Linked DNA regions of Homo sapiens: region 1 is linked to region 2. Evidence: fine-mapped expression QTL. A gene starts in region 2. The other region holds a variant in brackets. All regions are shown on one strand. Distances are between the middles of the regions.

Region 1 (5,370 bases), 99 kb before region 2:
ACACTCATCAAAGTTGGCCCTTAACCCTGGCAGTCATTTGCTCTAAATTTTTAATGACTCGAAGCCTACCAAAAGTGCCCTGCAACAAGGGTAAAATTAGTAGAGCTCTTTGGTCTTCAACCCAAACATGCCCCAAACTTCTCTAGGGATGCCTGCCCGGGCTACCATGGGCTGCTTCCAGACATGATTTCAGGAAGGATGTGGGATCCACAGTGTGTAGCTTTAAGGCTCTGTCACTTACCTGTCGTGGATACCAACTATGGATTCAGTTTCTTAACAGTGGAAATGGGTGTGTGTTAACATTTCCAAAGCAATTGACTGTGCTTCTTCGTCAGGTGAGCACATGCAGCCCGTGAGACCCAGGATGCCAGCTGTAGCTTTGGTTTGCATGAAGAATGCACACGTGGAAATATTTGGGGGTTTTTGTTTGTTTGTTTTGTTTTGTTTGAGATGGAGTCTTGCTCTGTCGCCCAGGCTGGAGTGCAGTGGCGTGATCTCGGCTCACTGCAACCTCCACCTCCTGGGTTCAAGTGATTCTCCTGCCTAAGCCTCCCAAGTAGCTGGGATTAAGGGGACATGCCATCACGCCTGGCTAATTTTTGTAATTTTAGTAGAGACGGGGTTTCACCATGTTGGAAATACTTGGGTTTTGAAGCCAGATTCGGTGGCTCATGCCTGTAATCCCAGCACTTTGGGAGGCCGAGGCAGGTGGATTGCTTGAGGCCAGGAGTTCAAGACCAGCCTGGGCAACATGGCAAAACGCAGTCTCTACCAAAAATACAAAAATTAGCCAGTCTCATAACCTGGTCTCAAAAATAAATTAATTAATTAAAAATTTTTAAAGTATTGGCTTTTATTTATTTATTTATTTTATCTGTGTGGCAAAGGGAAGGGCAGGATTAATTTATGCTTCTCAGTTATTGGGGACAATAAGGAGATAACCATTAGAGAAGAGAACTGAAATTGAAAAATCAGCTTCTTTATTTATAGCCATTGGTAGCAGAATTCCTATAGAGAATTTCCAGAATGGAAGCTGGCCCAATAGTCCCTTATCCATACTCTAATCTTCCCACGTTTCCATTCATATGGCTTTCAAAGTGGTAGAATATTGGCTGATAAGAGTAACCTTTGCCGGGTGGTGCGGTAGCTCACGCCTATAATCCCAGCACTTTAGGAGGCTGAGGCAGGCAGATCACCTAAGGTCAGGAGTTCAAGACCAGCCTGGCCAACGTGGCAAAACCCCATCTCTACTAAAAATACAAAAATTAGGTGGGTGTGGTGGCATGCACCTGTAATCCCAGCTATTCTGGAGGCTGAGGCAGCAGAATTGCTTGAACCCTGGAGGTGAAGGTTGCAGTGAGCCAAGATCGTTGCAGTGAGCCGAGATCGCACCATTGCACTCCAGCCTGGGTGACAAGAGTGAAACTGTCTAAAAAAAAAATGGAGTAACCTTTACAGCATTCTACTCGTTCTTTCTTTCAGAGATGCCATAACAAAAATGAAAGATGTCTACCTAAAGAATCCTCAGATGGGAGACCCAGCCAGTTTGGATCACAAATTAGCAGAAGTCAGCCAAAATATAGAGAAACTGCGAGTAGAGACCCAGAAATTTGAGGTATGAAACTTCTGTTGTGGAAAGCTTTGTTGGAAACGAAGAACAGGTGTTCCTCGGTGTAGAATGGTGTGGGGCCCTGACGATCCTCTCACTGGGAGGTACACAGTGGGAATGGCAGGCTGTTTCAGGAGTTATGGTCAAAGGAAAAATACACTCTTCGCCGTTGAACATTCTCCTACTCATCATAGCCTATCTTAATCGTGGCTGTAAAACCTGACAATGTTTAATGTTGTATCTGTATACGGTGCGGGGTTGGCGGGGTTGTTTTTTAATTTTAGAGACAGGATTTTGCTTTGTTGCCCAGGCTGGAGTACAGTGGCATGCTTGTAGCTCACTGCAGCCTTGATCTCCTTGGCTCAGCCTTTGAGGAGCTGGGATTACAGGCACATGCCACCATACCTGGCTAACTTTTATTTTTCAATTTTTTATTTGTTTTAGAGTTGAGGTCTTGCTCTGTTGCACAGACTGGTCTTGAACTCCTGGCCTTAAGCCATCCTCCCACCTTGGCCTCCCAGAGTGCTGGGATTACAGCTGTGAGCCACTGTGAGCCACTGTGCCTGGCCAGTATTTTTTGTACTTTAAGTTATTCTGCTTCATCTCATGGTAATAAAATTGGGAGTATAGAGCGATCCGTTATCCCAGTGAATCAAAGAAGCAATGAAAAAAATCCCCTGAAATATACAATTGTTCTCTCAGCAGGCCCATTATGGAAAGGGTGTGTGTGAGAACCAGCAGCAAACACAAAGGAGAAACAAGCAGGAAACATAAATAATCAAAGCTTGAGGGAGGGAGAGGAGCACTCAAAAGCTGTCAACAAAAGCCTCCTGAACCCACTCTCCCTACCACGTTTAAAGACTACAGAGCATGGAAAAATACATTAGCAACCGATTCTACCAGTCAGAATAGATTGTTTCCAGCAATGAAGGGTCAACTATGGCTTTTTTCATTCTTTTTTTTGAGATGAAGTCTCGCCCTGTTGCCCAGGCTGGAGTGTAGTAGCGTGATCTCACCTCAGTGTGACCTCCACTTCCCAGGTTCAAGTGATTCTCCTGCCTCAGCCTCCTGAGTAGCTGGGACTACAGGTGTGTACCACCACACCCGGCTACTTTTTGTATTTTTGGTAGAGACAGGGTTTTGCCATGTTGGCCAGGCTGGTCTCGAACTCCTGACCTCAGATGCTCCACCCACCTTGGCTTCCCAAAGTGCTGGGATTACAGGCGTGAGCCACCACACCTGGCCAGCTTTTTCCATTCTTTTCAGAATCCATCATTAATGTTCATTTGAGCATTTAGAACTTAGAACGGTCCTTTTCTTATTATTATTCTTTTTTTTGAGACAGAGTCTCGCTCTGTCACCCAAGCTGGAGTGCAGTGGTGCAGTCTCGACTCACTGTAACCTCCACCTCCTGAGTTCCAGTGATTCTCGTGCCTCAGCCTCCCGAGTAGCTGGGACTACAGGCATGTGCCACCATGCCCAGCTAATTTTTGTATTTTTAATGGAGATGGAGTTTCACCATGTTGGCCAGGCTGGTCTCGAACTCCTGACCTCAGGTGATCTGCCCACCTCTCCCAAAGTGCTGGGATTACAGGCGCTCACCACCACCCCCAGCTAATTTTTGTACTCTTAGTAGAGACAGCGTTTCACCATGTTGGCCAGGCTGGTCTGAAACTCCCAACCTGAAGTGATTCACCCACCTCGGCCT[C/T]CCAAAGTGCTGGGATTACAGGTGTGGCCACCGCGCCCGGCCTTCTCGTCATTTTTATTCCTTTGACTTGTTTATACTGTTTCAAATGCTGAAGGTCATTTTATCTACTTTAATTTTTAAGTACAAGTTTCATTTCTATCAAAAAAAAAAGTTACACTCCTAAAAAATAGGAAGTGTGGCTTTCAAACTGAGTCACTGCTTTAAGCATGGCTGTACCTTCAGGTATCACAGGGCGACCTCATGGTCAAGAAGGAACTAGAAGTGACTTATCCAAGACTGCACTGCTGCTTAAAAGCCCAAGGGGATAGCATAGTCCAGTGTGCTTTCTGCCCCATCGTGGGCAACCACATAAATATGAGTTTGTTTCTATGTCTCCAACTTCGGGTGAAATGGAAGCAACCGTCCTTCAGTACATTTGAACAGTCGAAGGCAGAAAACGTGGCCATTCTGCCCCCACGTGGACTTCCTCACATTGGGTTAAATGGCCAAGAGTAGCCCCTGAGTTTGGGACCTTAGGATGCTCCGGGCTGGCCCTCAGATGGCCTTTGGGACCTTAGGACACTCTGGGCTGACCCTCAGATGGCCTTAGGTTGGAGTCTCTCATTGCTTTTGTCTCCAGGCCTGGCTGGCTGAGGTTGAAGGCCGGCTCCCAGCACGCAGCGAGCAGGCGCGCCGGCAGAGCGGACTGTACGACAGCCAGAACCCACCCACAGTCAACAACTGCGCCCAGGACCGTGAGAGGTACAGTATCTGCACAGCGCCTGCCTCTGGCAAGGGAGCCTGTTGGCTTTGTATTTATTTCTAAATTTTGGAATCTGGAATGACCATAAGGCACTTGTTCAATGCCAAAATGTCTGTTGCGATTGACCTGTCACTTTTTCCATGATGCAGATTTATAATTCCACATGGGATGGGTGATCTGAGCGTGCGATGATTTACCATGGCCTCAGTTACAGCACTCGCTGAGGGGCGGGGTTGCAAGTGCTCTCCAGTCGCAGGGACTCAATCTGAGTCCTCCCTGGGGTCAGTCGCTTTAGTTGCTTTGTGTTTTCCTTTCTTGAGCAGCCCAGATGGCAGTTACACAGAGGAGCAGAGTCAGGAGAGTGAGATGAAGGTGCTGGCCACGGATTTTGACGACGAGTTTGATGATGAGGAGCCCCTCCCTGCCATAGGGACGTGCAAAGCTCTCTACACATTTGAAGGTGACATTTCATGTCTGCTGGATTCCCCTGCCTTTTATAAACCATAATATCTGAGTTACTCTTCTTTCACTTTTCCTTCCTTCCTTCCTTCTGATCATTTTTATTCCTTTGTCCTTCCTTCCTTCCTTCCTACCTTCCCTTCCCCTTCCCCTTCCCCTTCCCCTTCCTTCCTTCCCTTCCCTTCCCTCCCTTCCCTTCCTTCCCTTCCTTCCCTTCCTTCCTTCCTTCCTTTTTTTCATACAGGGTCTCGCTCTCTTGCCCAAGTTAGAGTGCAGTGGTGCAATCATGGCTCACTGCAGCCTTGACCTCCTGGGCTCAAGTGATCCTCCAACCTCAGCCTCCTGAGTAGCTGGGACTACAGGCAAGCACCACCATGTCCGGCTCATTTTTGTACTTTTGTACTTTTTGTACTTTTCAGTAGAGACAGGGTCTCACTATGTTGCCCAGGCTGGTGTTGAACTCCTGGATTCAAGCAGTACTCCTGCCTCAGCCTCCCAAAGTGCTGTGATCACAGGTGTGAGCCACTGTGCCTAGCCACACTCTTCTCTTTCTGTGACCAGAACTTTCTTTAGAAGCCTTCCAGATCTGGCCGGGCATGGTGGCTCACACCTGTAATCCTAGAACTTTGGGAGGCTGAGGCGGGCAGGTCACTTGAGGCCAGGAGTTCAAGACCAGCCTCGCCAACATGGTGAAATCCCATCTCTACTAAAAATACAAAAACTGGCTGGGCATGCTGGCAGGCGCCTGTAATCCCAGCTGCTCGGGAGGCTGAGGCACGAGAATCACTTGAACCCGGGAGGCGGAGGTTGCAGTGAGCTGAGATAGCGCCACTGTACTCCAGCCTGGGTGAC
Region 2 (5,370 bases):
TTTTGGTTCTGCTACAAAGGTCCTGTTCTGCTACAAAGATTGTAGGAGTAAGTCACCTTGCCTCTGGGCTCCAGGCTCCATCTTTTTTTTTTTTCTTTTTTTTTGAGACAGAGTCTCATTCTGTTGCCCAGGCTGGGGTGCAGTGGCCCATTCTCAGCTGACTGCAACCTCAGCCTCCCAAGTAGCTTGAATTACAGGCGCACGCCATCACGCCCGGCTAATTTTGTATTTTCAGTAGAGACGGGGTTTCTCCATGTTGGTCAGGCTGGTCTCGAACTCCCGACCTCAGGTGATCCGCCCGCCTTGGCGGATCCCAAAGTGCTGGGATTACAGGCGTGAGCCACTGCACCTGGCCCTGACTACATCTCTCTTTTTTTTTTTTTTTTCTGAGACAGAGTCTCACTGTGTCGCCCAGGCTGGAGTGCAGTGGCGCGATCTCGGCTCAGTGCAAGCTCCGCCTCCCGGGTTCAGGCCATTCTCCTGCCTCAGCCTCCCGAGTAGCTGGGACAACAGGTGCCCGCCACCATCCCCGGCTAATTTTTTGTATTTTTAGTAGAGACGGGGTCTCACCGTGTTAGCCAGGATGGTCTCCATCTCCTGACCTCGTGATCCGCCCCCCTCGGCCTCCGAAAGTGCTGGGATTACAGGCGTGAGCCACTGTGCCAGGCCTTTTTTTTTTTTTTTTTTTTGAGACCGAGTACGGTGGCGCGATCTCAGCTCACTGCAACCTCTGCCACCCAGGTTCAAGCGATTCTCCTGCCTCAGCCTCCCAAGTAGCTGGGATTACAGGTGCGTGCCACCGTGCTCAGGTAATTTTGGTACTTTTAGGTAGAGATGGGGTTTCACCATGTTGGCCAGGCTGGTCTCAAACTCCTGGCCTCAAATGATCCGCCCGCCTCGGCTTCCCCAAAATGCTGGGATTACAGGCGTGAGCCACGGCGCCAGGCCCTTGGCTCCCCATCTTTTAATGGAAATAACATCCCCTACCCCACTGGACTGTTTTGGAACCAAGTAAGAGAAATGTTGTAGGAGAGCTTTGTAACTACCTGGACTAAGTGTGCCTTAACTCAGTGGAGCCGGGGGCTACAGCAACACAAAGGAAAGAGAAGCAGAGGCCAGAGTTAGTGAGCAGGTCACCCGGACCAGTCCGACTGGCCTGCAGACGAGATAATAGCGGGTTCTCTTGCCTGGTACAGTTTTATCTTCTGCTCATGAGGGAAGTGCAGAGTCGATACAAACAGGTGGACAAAGTTACTCTTCAGACCTTTTGGGTGAAGATTTTCAGCCACAATTTGACTGACAAAATTCTTGCCTGTGCCAGCCCAGCCGTGTAAGGAAAGGGTCAGTGGTTTCTTGGGATTTTTGTTGTTCCTGAAGCCAGTCAGCGCCTTGAAAATCACTTCCGTGGCTAGATGCTGTCCAAACAGCTTCTCCTCCAAATCCAGCTTGAGAGCTGCAAGAACAGCCCCAGAACAAAGAGAGAAACAGACCTTAAAAATGCATCAGCAACGCAGCACTTTCTTAGCTGGCCAAAGCAAGAAGCACAGATTATCCAGGGACACAGCAGGGTGTCTGCCACACCCTAGGGCCGAGGCAGTCAAACGATGCCACTTTCAAGATTATGTGGAGGTCCTTAACGCTTCGGGGTCTGATAAGGAAGCTAAATGTTCATTCATTCAGAGATGAACCATCGCTTGACTGAGCGCTTGCTAATCCCAGCCACCCTTGCTGACCTGCAGGAAAACCAGGGGCCAAATGTGGGCTTTCTGGGCGACGCAGCACGTCTGAAAACTACTTAATAGGGTTGGCAGGGCGCAGAAGGGCCGCCCGCCTACTTTCCGTTTCTTCCACCTGTGATCCCAAGGAACGGGAGCTTTAGAAAGGCGCTGGGGCAGCCCCACGATCTGGAGACTGTTTGCGAAGGCACCGCTTCTGCGTTCCCGCGAACGGTTCCGGGGCCGCCCCATCCGCTCCCCGCCCACCCCAGCTGGGACCACCGCCGTCTAGATGCCACGGGCCCGGTCCGTGCCAGGCGCCCACGAGGCCGTCCCTCCGCGCCCCCGCGCCCCCGCGCCCCCCGCAGCGCCGACCCACAGCTCGCGCGCGCGCCGTACCCGAAGCGTTGAGCGGCCGCTCCTCGCGGCAGCACTCGGCGAAGCGGCAGTAGATGTCATTGTAGGACAGGTAGCCGGTGATGGCCGACGCGGCCCCGATGGCTAGGCCCACGGTGATGGGCTCGAACGCCGCCACCACTCGGGCCGCCAGCAGCAGCGCCAGCGCCGCCGCGCCCCGGAGCCACCCAGCCCGCAACATCCCGCTCCTCGAAGCCCGCAGAAGCCACTGAGCCAGGCGCCCCGCGGCCAAGCGGCAGGACGGACTTCCTCTCGTGCGTCACTTCCGCCCCGCAGACCCGCCCACTCCCTTGGGGGCGGCCATGTTGGTGAGGGGCGGAGAGGAGGGCGGTGCCATCGTTCTTGGGAGTGGTCCGAAGGTGTAGGAGACTGTTTTGTTTCCCTTTTCTTTTAAAAAAATTTTTTCGGGCCGGGCGCGGTGGCTCACGCCTGTAATCCCAGGACTTTGGGAGGCCGAGCCGAGATCACGCCATTGCACTCCAGCCTGGGCAACAAGAGTGAAAAAATATCTAAAAAAAAAAAAAAAAATTTTTTTTTTTTGGCCGGGCGCCGTGGCTCACGCCTGTAATCCCAGCACTTTGGGAAGCTGAAGCGGGCGGATCACCTGATGTCAGGAGTTCGAGACCAGCCTGCTCAACGTGGCGAAACCCCGTCTCTACTAAAAATACAAAAAATTAGATGGGTGTGGTGGCGGGCGCCTGTAATCCCAGCTACTCGGGAGGTTGAGGCAGGAGAATCTCTTGAACCCAGGAGGCGGAGGTTGCAGTTAGCCGAGATCGTGCCACTGCACTCCAGCCTGGGCGACAAGAGCGAAACTGTCTCAAAAAAAAAAAAAAAGGCTGGCCGGGCGCGGCGGCTCACGCCTGTAATCCCAGCACTTTGGGAGGCCGAGGCAGGCGGATCACGAGGTCAGGAGATCAAGACCATCCTGGCTAACACAGTGAAATCCCATCACTACGAAAAATAGAAAAAATCAGCCGGGCATGGTGGCGGGCGCCTGTAGTCCCAGCTACTCGGGAGGCTGAGGCAGGAGAATGGCGTGAACCTGGGAGGCGGAGCTTGCAGTGAGCCGAGATCGTGCCACTGCACTCCAGCCTGGACGACAGAGCGAGACTCCGTCTCAAAAAAAACAAAAAAAAGCCAAAAAAAATTTTTTTAAACTTTCTTATATTTTTTTCTTATCTGATATGTATATTGGGGACAGGGTCTGGCTCTGTCGCCCCGGCTGGAGCGCAGTGGCAGGATCTCGGCTCGCTGCAAACTCTTCCTCCCAGGTTCAAGCGATTCTCCCATCTCAGCTGCTGGAGTAGCTGGGATTATAGGTGCCCGCCAACACGCCCAGCCAACTTTTGTGTTTTTAGTAGAGACGGGGTTTCGCCATGTGGCCCAAGCTGGTCTCGAACTCCTGACCTCAAGCGATCTACCTGCCTCCGTCTTCCAAAGCCTGGGGTTACAGGAGTGGGCTTATGGCTGGATTTGTTTTCTTCAGAGCTTCTCGGAGCCCTCAAGCTTTGCTTTGTTATCCCTCCCTTCACTTCGCCGGAGGTATAATGTGCGTTTCTTGGGTCGGCCCACCCGCCTGCCTTCTTCCTGAAACAGTTGCGAACTCTCCGTGCTGCGCCCTAGACTGAGCACTGGGGATGCAGCGGCCCCAAGACAGACCTGCCCAGGCTTCCACACTGAAATCCCGAGGTCCATTCTTTCATTCAGCACGCTAGGTGGCAGGCCCCTTGCTGGATGCCAGGAACGACAGCAGAGGAGGGGACGGAGTTGGCCCCTGCCCTCTCAGAGCTGACGGTCTATGGGGGAGGCCGACAAAGGGGTGAGACTCAATGCTGAGTGGGCAGAGAAGTATCGGACAGTGGTACAGGGAAGGCTTTTGTCTAAGCTGGGCACTGAGGGAGTTAGGCCAGGCAAAAAATGAGTAGAGTGTTTTAGGCAGAAAACAACAGTCAGTTTGGAGAACTGAAAGGATTCCACATGGCGGAAGGTGGTGAGAGATAGGGATGAAGAATCAGGCAGAGACTGGAAGGTGAAGTCCTTGCGAATGTTGTAAGGAGTTTGGCCTCTGTTCTGGGGGGTAATAGGGAGCCACAGAGGGTTTTACACAGGAAGCAACATGGTCAGATCAGAGATCATTCTGGCTGCTGGGTTCACAAGAAATGGAAGGCAGAGAGCCAGTGAAGAGGCTGTTGCCGTGGTCCAGGTAACTAGTCAGGGAGACAGATGAGCAAGCAGGCAGCTTATGTCCAGGGTGGGCCAAGGCTGTAATGCAGGATGCACAGAGGCCTGTGGGTGGGGAGGGATCTTCTCCTCCCTATCTCAGTTGCGATCTAAAGAATGAATGGAAGGGCCAGGTGCACTGGCTCATGCCTGTAATCCCAGGACTTTGGGAGGCCGAGGCAGGCAGGTCACCTGAGGTCAGGAGTTCGAGACCAGCCTGGCCAACATGGTGAAATCCCGTCTCTACAAAAAATACAAAAATTAGCCAGGTGTGGTGGTGCGCGCCTGTAATCCCAGGTACTCGGGAGGCTGAGACAGGAAAATGGCTTGAACCCAGGAGGCAGAGGTTGCAGTGAGCCAAGATTGCGCCACTGCATTCCAGCCTGGGCGACAGAGCAAGACTCCGTCTCAAAAAAAAGAAGAAAAAAAAAAAGAATAGAAGTTGGCCGTGGGAAGTGGCTTAAACTTTTTTTTTTTTTGAGACAGCAGCTCACTCTGTTGCCCAGGCTGGAGTGCAGAGTGCAGTGGCATGATCTCAGCTCACTGCAGCCTCTGCCTCTTAGGTTCAAGCAATTCTCCTGCCTCAGCCTCCGAGTAGCTGGGATTACACGTGTGCATCACGATGCCCAGCTATTTTTTTTTTTTTTTTTTTTTTGAGATGGAGTCTCGCTTTGTCACCCAGGCTGGAGTGCAGTGGCATGATCTCCGCTCACTGCAACCTCTGCCTCCTGGGTTCAAGCCATTCTCCTGCCTCAGCCTCCCCAGTAGCTGGGATTACAGGTGTGCACTACCATGCCCATCTGTTTTTAGTAGAGACGGGGTTTCACCATGTTGGCCAGGCTGGTCTCGAACTCTTGACCTCGTGATCTGCCCACCTCGGCCTCCCAAAGTGCTGGGATTACAGGTGTAGCCACCGCGCTCGGCCTACTTTTTGTAGTTTTAGTAGAGATTTAGTAGAGATGCAGTTTCACCGTGTTGGCCAGGCTGGTCTGGAACTCCTGACCTCAAGTGATCC

What was found. PIP is the estimated chance that this variant, and not a neighbour inherited with it, causes the effect.
Region 1: its variant is the best candidate, but not a certain one, in a credible set for the expression of TOR1B in aorta (GTEx, PIP 0.57).

The regions. Positions count from the first base shown.
Region 1 is chr9:129,899,114-129,904,483 of GRCh38, reverse strand. It overlaps FNBP1 (formin binding protein 1), which reads left to right. Exons shown (of 17, transcript NM_015033.3): 13 at 1,483-1,615; 14 at 3,937-4,058; 15 at 4,383-4,519. Among named protein-coding and RNA genes, the nearest start is that of MIR6855, 32 kb to the right of the region's middle. RefSeq lists an enhancer at 3,702-3,821. The variant C/T (reference allele first, on the strand shown) is at 3,318.
Region 2 is chr9:129,800,156-129,805,525 of GRCh38, reverse strand. TOR1B (torsin family 1 member B) reads right to left here and starts at 2,342. Exons shown (of 5, transcript NM_014506.3): 1 at 2,115-2,342; 2 at 1,188-1,453. The coding sequence starts at 2,313. RefSeq lists silencers at 1,953-2,072, 2,133-2,262.